Regions from separate parts of the Homo sapiens genome. Here all the other regions are linked to region 3. Evidence: fine-mapped expression QTL. A gene starts in region 3. Each other region holds a variant in brackets. All regions are shown on one strand. Distances are from middle to middle.

What was found. PIP is the estimated chance that this variant, and not a neighbour inherited with it, causes the effect.
Region 1: its variant is the best candidate, but not a certain one, in a credible set for the expression of PIK3R1 in whole blood (INTERVAL, PIP 0.60).
Region 2: its variant is the best candidate, but not a certain one, in a credible set for the expression of PIK3R1 in macrophages (Nedelec 2016, PIP 0.87).

What each region holds. Positions count from the first base shown.
Region 1 is chr5:67,223,698-67,226,456 of GRCh38, forward strand. No RefSeq gene overlaps it. Among named protein-coding and RNA genes, the nearest start is that of CD180, 28 kb to the left of the region's middle. The variant T/C (reference allele first, on the strand shown) is at 1,172.
Region 2 is chr5:67,991,288-67,994,046 of GRCh38, forward strand. No RefSeq gene overlaps it. Among named protein-coding and RNA genes, the nearest start is that of LINC02219, 200 kb to the right of the region's middle. The variant T/C (reference allele first, on the strand shown) is at 1,272.
Region 3 is chr5:68,214,457-68,217,215 of GRCh38, forward strand. PIK3R1 (phosphoinositide-3-kinase regulatory subunit 1) reads left to right here and starts at 1,300. Exons shown (of 16, transcript NM_181523.3): 1 at 1,300-1,493. RefSeq lists silencers at 477-696, 917-2,016.

The sequences.
Region 1 (2,759 bases), 990 kb before region 3:
CACTTACTGAAGGTCATAAGGAAATAGTTGATGAATTCTGGTTACCTGATATTTATTTACCAGGTCCCCTAAAACCTCATTTCTGGTGCGCAAGTCATCTGAATCCCATAGCACAATATGCTGTCATTTGATCAACCACTTCATTACCGCATATTGTGAATAGCTGGCTTCTCATCCTGCACTAAGAAAGTCCTTAGTGCAGTCCACTTTGAAAATGGGAAATAAGGCTAGGAGCATTGGCTCATGCCTGTAATCCCAGCACTTTGGGAGGCTGAGGTGGGTGATCACCTGAGGTCAGGAGTTCAAGACCAGCCTGGCCAACATGGTGAAGCCGCGTCTCTACTAAAAATAAAAAATTAGCCAGGTGTGGTGGCATGCACCTGTAGTCCCAGCTACTGGGGAGGCTGAGGCAGGAGAATCACCTGAATCCAGGAGGCAGAGGTTGCAGTGAGCCAAGATTGTGCCACTGCACTCCAGCCTGGGCAACAGAGTGACTCTGTATCAAAAAAAAAAAAAAAAAAAAAAAAAAAAAAAAAAAGGGAAAAAAAAAAGAAAATGGGGACTAGAAATCAAACAGAGTTCTCTTTTACTCTGTGGGTCTGAGGTTAGATACCCTGAGAATTTTTGGTACCTAGTGATGTCAAAGTTTAAGTTTTGAAGGTATGGTCTATGAGTGGCAAGTAAACAACAGGATAGGTGTAGTTGTGTGTATATATGTGTGTGTGTGTGTGAGAGAGAGAGAGAGAGAGATTTGGAAAGATAGGGCTATGAAAAGATTTTCTTTTAGCCATTTTGTTGAGTTTCCCTGTAGAAGGCATGGTTTAGAAATCATTGCACTATATTCTGATTGATAGCTTTATTAATCATATATGTGGCTATTGTGGAGGTACATGGCCCTGCATTGTTTTTATACAGCTTCCAGGTAGGGTCTAAGCCAGGAGGAGAGTGACACACTTTCCTCCCAGAGTCTCTCTAACAAGTGTATGGTGCATGATAGAAGTGCCTCACTGTAGCTGGGAAAGCAAGATTATTATTATTATTATTATTATTATACTTTAAGTTTTAGGGTACATGTGCACAACGTGCAGGTTTGTTACATATGTATACATATACCATGTTGGTGTGCTGCACCCATTCACTCGTCATTTAACATTAGGTATATCTCCTAATG[T/C]TATCCCTCCCCCATCTCCACACAGGCCCCGGTGTGTGATATTCCCCTTCCTGTGTCCATGTGTTCTCATTGTTCACTTCCCATCTATGAGTGAGAACATGCAGTGTTTGGTTTTTTGTTCTTGCAATAGTTTGCTGAGGATGATGGTTTCCAGCTTCATCCATGTCCCTACAAAAGACAGGAACTCATCATTTTTATGGCTGCATAGTATTCCATGGTGTATATGTGCCACATTTTCTTAATCCAGTCTATCATTGTTGGACATTTGGGTTGGTTCCAAGTCTTTGCTATTGTGAATAGTGCCGCAATAAACACACGTGTGCATGTGTCTTTATAGCAGCATGATTTATAATCCTTTGGGTATATACCCAGTAATGGGATGACTGGGTCAAATGGTATTTCTAGTTGTAGATCCCTGAGGAATTGCCACACTGACTTCCACAATGGTTGAACTAGTTTACAGTCCCACCAACAGTGTAAAAGTGTTCCTGTTTCTCCACATCCTCTCCAGGACCTGTTGTTTCCTGACTTTTTAATGATTGCCATTCTAACTGGTGTGAGATGGTATCTCATTGTGGTTTTGATTTGCATTTCTCTGATGGCCAGTGATGATGAGCATTTTTTCATGTGTCTTTTGGCTGCATAAATGTCTTCTTTTGAGAAGTGTCTGTTCATATCCTTCGCCCACTTGTTGATGGGGTTGTTTGTTTTTTTCTTGTAAATTTGTTTGAGTTCATTGTAGATTCTGGATATTAGGCCTTTGTCAGATGAGTAGATTGCAAAAATTTTCTCCCATTCTGTAGGTTGCCTGTTCACTCTGATGGTAGTTTCTTTTGCTGCGCAGAAGTGCTTTAGTTGAATTAGATCCCATTTATCAATTTTGGCTTTTGTTGCCATTGCTTTTGGTGTTTTAGACATGAAGTCCTTGCCCATGCCTGTGTCCTGAATGGTATTGCTTAGGTTTTCTTCTAGGGTTTTTATGGTTTTAGGTCTAACATATAAGTCTTTAATCCATCTTGAATTAATTTTTGTATAAGGTGTAAGGAAGGGATCCAGTTTCAGCTTTCTACATATGGCTAGCCAGTTTTCCCAGCACCATTTATTAAATAGGGAATCCTTTCCCCATTGCTTGTTTTTGTCAGGTTTGTCAAAGATCAGATAGTTGTAGATATGTGGCATTATTTCTGAGGGCTCTGTTCTGTTCCGTTGGTCTACATCTCTGTTTTGGTACCAGTACCATGCTGTTTTGGTTACTGTAGACTTGTAGTATAGTTTGAAGTCAGGTAGCGTGATGCCTCCAGCTTTGTTCTTTTGGCTTAGGATTGACTTGGCAATGCGGGCTCTTTTTTGGTTCCATATGAACTTTAAAGTAGTTTTTTCCAATTCTGTGAAGAAAGTCATTGGTAGCTTGATGGGGATGGCATTGAATCTATAAATTACCTTGGGCAGTATGGCCATTTTCAGAATATTGATTCTTCCTACCCATAAGCATGGAATGTTCTTCCATTTGTTTGTATCCTCTTTCATTTCATTGAGCAGTGGTAGTTCTCCTTGAAGAGGTCCTTCACATCCCTTCTAAGTTGGATTC
Region 2 (2,759 bases), 220 kb before region 3:
CATGGACTACGATCTGTGCTTTAGAGAATTCTCTACAGTACAAGAAAGAGAAGGGCCTAGAGCAAGGCAGCCGCCACTGTGTGCTACACCAGCCCTCCCCTCAGCCACGCCCTGCATAAGGCTAGCCCTCTACATCACAGCAGCAGAGAGCTGGGCAGTTCCTTCTAGAAAGACACAGTTCCTATGCTCCAAAACCTCTATTACCTAAAATGGCCACCCCTGGCATTATCCCAGAAAATAGTTATTTGTAGGGTAGAGTCATTTCAAACCCCAAAGCTACTGAAGAAGTCGTAAAAAAGCAGAAGTACAGATACAGTGGCTGCATCCTTTTAAAAGTAGGGTCAGGACCCAGGTCCCTACTGATTACTTAAGTAGAAAAGAGCTTCCAAACTTTTCCCAAAACAGGACACTCTTATTTGGAGAACGGAGCTACACAAATACTAATTAAAAGAACCCACTTTGATTTCCTATCACAGGGGTAGGCAAGCGTTTTCTGTAAAGAGCCAGAGAATAAATATTTTAGGCTTTGAAGACCATACCACTTCTGTTGCAACCATTCAATTCTGTTTTCATAGACAAAATGTAAATGAATGAGCATGGCTGTGTTCCAATAAAACTTCAGTCACCAAATAGGCAGTGGGCCAGATTTCACCTAGAGGCATTGCTGCCCCCACCCTTCTATCCTATAAGAAATCACTTTCTCTGTAATTTTCCCATAGGACATGTTTGTTTTGCTAATTCCTACTCATCCCCAACAAGTTAAAATGCAGTATCTCAGTAAGTTGTTCTTGTTATTTCATTCCTTGCTTCCTTTTTGCAAAGCTGATGAACATTACATTTCTTTTAAAAAAAAAAGGTTAAGTTTTACTTGATTTAAAGCATCTGTGAGCAGTGGCAAATAATAGAAAGTCTTAGTATTAGAAATTGAGAAAGGTTTTAGAGACCCAACCCCCTTTCCTGGCATGATAATCTGAAGCTAAAGAGGCGAAGTAACTTGCCCAAGGTCAAGCAGTCAGTTCAGTGTATAATCTCAAATGAATGATATGAATTGATAGAAATACTGTGCATCAGATGGACTGCTTAGATTGCCCCATCGCAGGTTGGTGGACACCATGTTTGGAGTTTTTTCCTCCTATGCAACCACACTCATATATCCATGCTCTCTTTTCCTTCAGTTCCTTTACTTAATTTCGAAAAGCAAAACACAGTCTTTCCACAATGCGTCAAAGAAGTCCACCCTGATAGCGGCCCAAAGCAGTCAGCAAAACATC[T/C]AATCTTGGGGCCATGGTCAAAGAGGTACCACTTGCCAAGCAGAAATACATGAGTATTAGCAGGAGTCTGAGACCATTCCTGAAGTTCCTGTTCTGGCAGTAGGTTGACTTGCCTGTCATGTGCAGAAGTAACAGATTTGTGTTACTCTGTTCAGGGGCATCCATTTATCTCTTCTAGAACGATTAGAATTAATTTGACTATGATTTTAAAATCCAATATTTCAAACAAGATTTCCAATGCCATTTGCACTAGTTGAGCTATTTTGTTTGTAGTGGAAATACTTATAAATTGTCCAGAAAGCTGTGAGCCCTGTTAACATCTGTTGGAATGGGGTGAATACAAAAGGTTAGAGAGGAAGTGCCAGGAGCAGAAGTCTCCGATGACAACATTTCCTTTCTTCTACCTCCACCTTCTCTCCAGGTGGGTATGAGTAGGAATGCCATATGCTAGTGTTGAATTTAGATGTTCGAGGTGGAACATTTGGACTTGCACTGAATATTTCCCTTGAATGCAAGCTATAAAAATAAATTACACACTGTCCACGACTGACTCATTTGGCAATGGTTCCCACAGAGAGGTCAGATTAACTGTATTCATTCCCTTAATATACTTCCACTCAACACTATGTCAAGTTGGTATCTTTGCATTTTAAATATTCTGAAATCTTGTTCATGTACATACTGTTCCATCACACAGAAAGATCATTAATTCTTTGTCAGTTGATAGTGTCTTTTATTTCTGTTTTACTTTATATTTTTCTTTCCCTCCCTTTACCAGAAACAATTCAGCCACCAGCCAACCTAGATTAGTATCGACTCGCACTCAGATTTCTGGGGCAATTTAAGAGAGTAAGCTCTCTTCTGAGCTGGAGATGGATGGTCCTAAAGACTTCCAAATTCAATTAGATCCCTGGGTTTCTACTCCCTAATTTTGCTTGCTATATGCCAGGCTCTGTGTGAATTACCACATTTAATCTTCCAACGACCCTATGAGATAAGCACATAATTATAATAGCTCCACTTTACAGAGAGAGATATTAATGTTTAGAAAGGTTAAAAAAATTGCCTAAGCTCACAAAACTAATTATAAGTGAGGAACCAGGGATTCCAACCCAACTTGTCAGCCAACAGGGTTCACAGTCTTGAATACCATGCAAACTCTTCCAATTTGCTAAATAATTCCAGAATCATTTTTTGTAACATGTAAAGCAAATAATATTACTCTTCTACTCTGAAAACTTCAACAGCTTTTTATATCTACAGGAGATTATTCAAAATATATTTTCCCTAGAGTAGCATTTTGGAGCCCCCTCTGCCCTCCCGTCTTTCTTACCGTACCTTTTTCCACCTGTTCTTCTCCTGGCTTACACTTTATGTGCCAAGCTGCTCACATGTAAATATGATGGGCTACTGCACTTCTCCTGCTTTGCTCAAACTGCTGTCTCTGCCTAGAGAACCCTCTCTCTTGTTCTTCTTGGGAGATACCTA
Region 3 (2,759 bases):
CTGTTAGGTGAGTCACCTTTAAAAATGATATTTTTTAAGGATAAGCGATGAATTTTAGGACGTTCTTCCCTCTACTTCCAACGTCCACAAGAATAAACCACCAAATTCAACGTTTTACAGAGGCCAAGTGCTTAGGTTTTGTGTGTTTGTTTTTAAGAGTTTTCTTGCAAGGAAACTGGGAGGGAACTATAAAAGGGCTTTAGGCAAACAGGGTGGGCGGGTGCAGGGCTTTAAGCTGCAGAAAGGAGAATCTGGAAAGAGCTTTTAGGAAGCAGATTCTCACATGTTTTAATATGAAAGAGTGGCACACGTGGTGCTGGCATTCCATCTTACCATCAGTGGAAGGTTTGAACCAACATCAAATTTTTCTGGAGCAACTTAGGTAATTATTACTTGAAGAATATGCATTTCAAAACTAACACCTTTAAGAGACAATGTAATTCACCTGCGCTTCCCCGCCCCCCCCGCCCGCGCCAACCCCACCCCCCGCCAACCCCGCCCCCGACTCCGCGAACGCCGAGGGGCCCGTGGTCTGCCTGAGTGACCTCCATTTGCTCTGTCATCTCAGGACTAGAAGCCATCAGCCAGCGTACGCCCTCAGAAAACTCTCTTCCCTTCTCGCGGGTCCGCCTGGCTCCCGGAGGCGGCGGTGCCAGGCTGCCGGAGTTAGCCAGCGGCAGGCTGCGGGCGCCCGTCCCTCCGGTTCACCCTTTCACCCCTCCTTCACCCCCGGAGCGCCAGGCGGGTGCCGCGGGTTTTCCGCCCACTCGGAAGGCAGTGCTGGCGAGACCAGGAATTGCAGGGCCTCTCCGCTTTGGCGAGCTCTGGAATCCGAGTCCTCCCCACCCCAGCCACTCTGCTGGGGCGCTAGGGGCTCGAAAAAGCCTGGGGTTGGCTGAAAGACACTCGGATTAGAGACGCAGCCAGCCTCCAGGGAGGTCTGAACTTGTCTTCGACCTCCCCGAACCCCTCCGCCTCTGCGCTGGGAGACGCCCAGCAGCCGGGCGGGCCCGGGACGTGTAGAGCCAGAGCACTCCGCAGCGGAGGCAGCGCGCGGCACGGCCGCCCGGGGCATCCCCGCGGCTGGGGGGCGGAAGGCGAGGGCGGTGGCAGGAAGGGTCCGCCAGGCCTGAGCTCGCTCCCCCACTGCCAGCCGCCGGCTCGGAGGCCCGAGCCGTGCGGACGGAAAGGGGCGGAGCCGCGGGCTCTGGTTGGTGTGGGCTCGGGGGCGGGGCGCGCGGGGCCGGGCCGGAGGCGGGGCTAGCGCCGGGCGCTGGAGCTGCGGGCGCACGGAGAGGAGTCGCCAGCAGCTGGAGCGGAGTTGGAGGAAGCAGCGGCAGCGGCGAGGGCGGCAGGCTAGCTGTCGGAGACGGCAAGCACGGATCGGGCACGGCCGGCGGGTCGCAGCCGGGCTGGAGGCCGGTCGGAACCGAGCGGGCAGGAGGCCACCGCTGCAGCGCGGGCCCCGCAGAGGAAGGAAGCCGGCGGGCGGGGTAGGTAGGCAGCAGCAGCCCCGGGTGTGTGTGCTCGGGCGGGGGAGGCGGTGCATGTGTGCACGGCTGCCGCGACTCTCTTCCTGTCACTGGCAGCGGCTTCTCCTTCTGCAGAGCCCCGCCGGGGGGAAGCGGGCTGGCCACCGGCCCTCCCCGCCTCCGGCATCTCCTGGCCGCCGGGCAGCACTACCCCCGCGCGCGGCCGGCGTCCTGTGAGATCCCCGCCATCCTGACTCCCGTTTCCCCCGTCCTCCTGCGAGCTGGTCCTGCACGCCGCCGGTCGCATTTGCCCCCGGAGTTGCCGACGAGCTCGGGCTTCCTCCCACCCTCCGTCACCGCACACTTCGGAGGGTCCCCGCTGTCGCCTTGCTGCAGTTTTCCGGGGCCCCTCACCGGAGGAGAGCGCCCTGGCCGCTGCCTTCGTGTTGCGGGAAGGAGCGCTCCCTTCCCCCGTGGCCCTCCAGCTGCAGCCAGGGTCGCTGCCCGGGCCCTTCCCGGGGCGGGCGAGGCGGCGGTGGTCCCCGGAGCTCGTCCCCTAACCCCCGCCTTCCGAAGTTTGCCGCCCTCCTCTTCCGGGGTGGGGGAAGTGCGCCTCGGGGCGGTTGGTCGCTGGGGCCCTAACTCAGCGTTTATTGCCAGCCAAGCTTGGGCAGGTTGTTGGAGGCATATTTAGTGGGGTCTTGGAACCGCCCGGAAATCCAGCTTTTGGAACGTGGGGCGAGGCGGGAGGGACCTGCCCAGCAATATGGAGCCGGCTGGGGAGAGCCAGGGAGCCTGCAACCCGGAGCTAAAATATCGTGGGCAATTCTCTGGAAACCACAGCTCTAACCTAAGCTCAGAAACTGCCCCTCAGATCACAAGACAAAGAGAACAGAAAACCTCTGGCCAGGCACTCCTGTACAGAAATACACTTTGATAACCAGAATTGGAGCCTGAAATGCAAGGATATATGCAGAATGGCTGTTACGTGTTGAATGCAGAATGTGTGTCAACTGGGTTTGGGGGAATTCTTCTGTTTCCCGGGGCGCTATTAATATCGGAAAGGTCTCACTTCCACCGTTAATCCCTTGAGCTGCAGCGCTGTTGGTGTCCGAGTGTGAGTCTGCTCTTTATTTGGGGGCTTCATGATTTTAGGTTTTTTTTCTTTTTTCTCTTCTTTTCCTCTTTGTCAGCCAGTGCGAAGTACCAATGGATAAAGCAGTTCCGGGTTTTGAATGCAACATAAGATTGTCATTTTGGTGTGATGAGGCTCAAGTTTTAGTAATC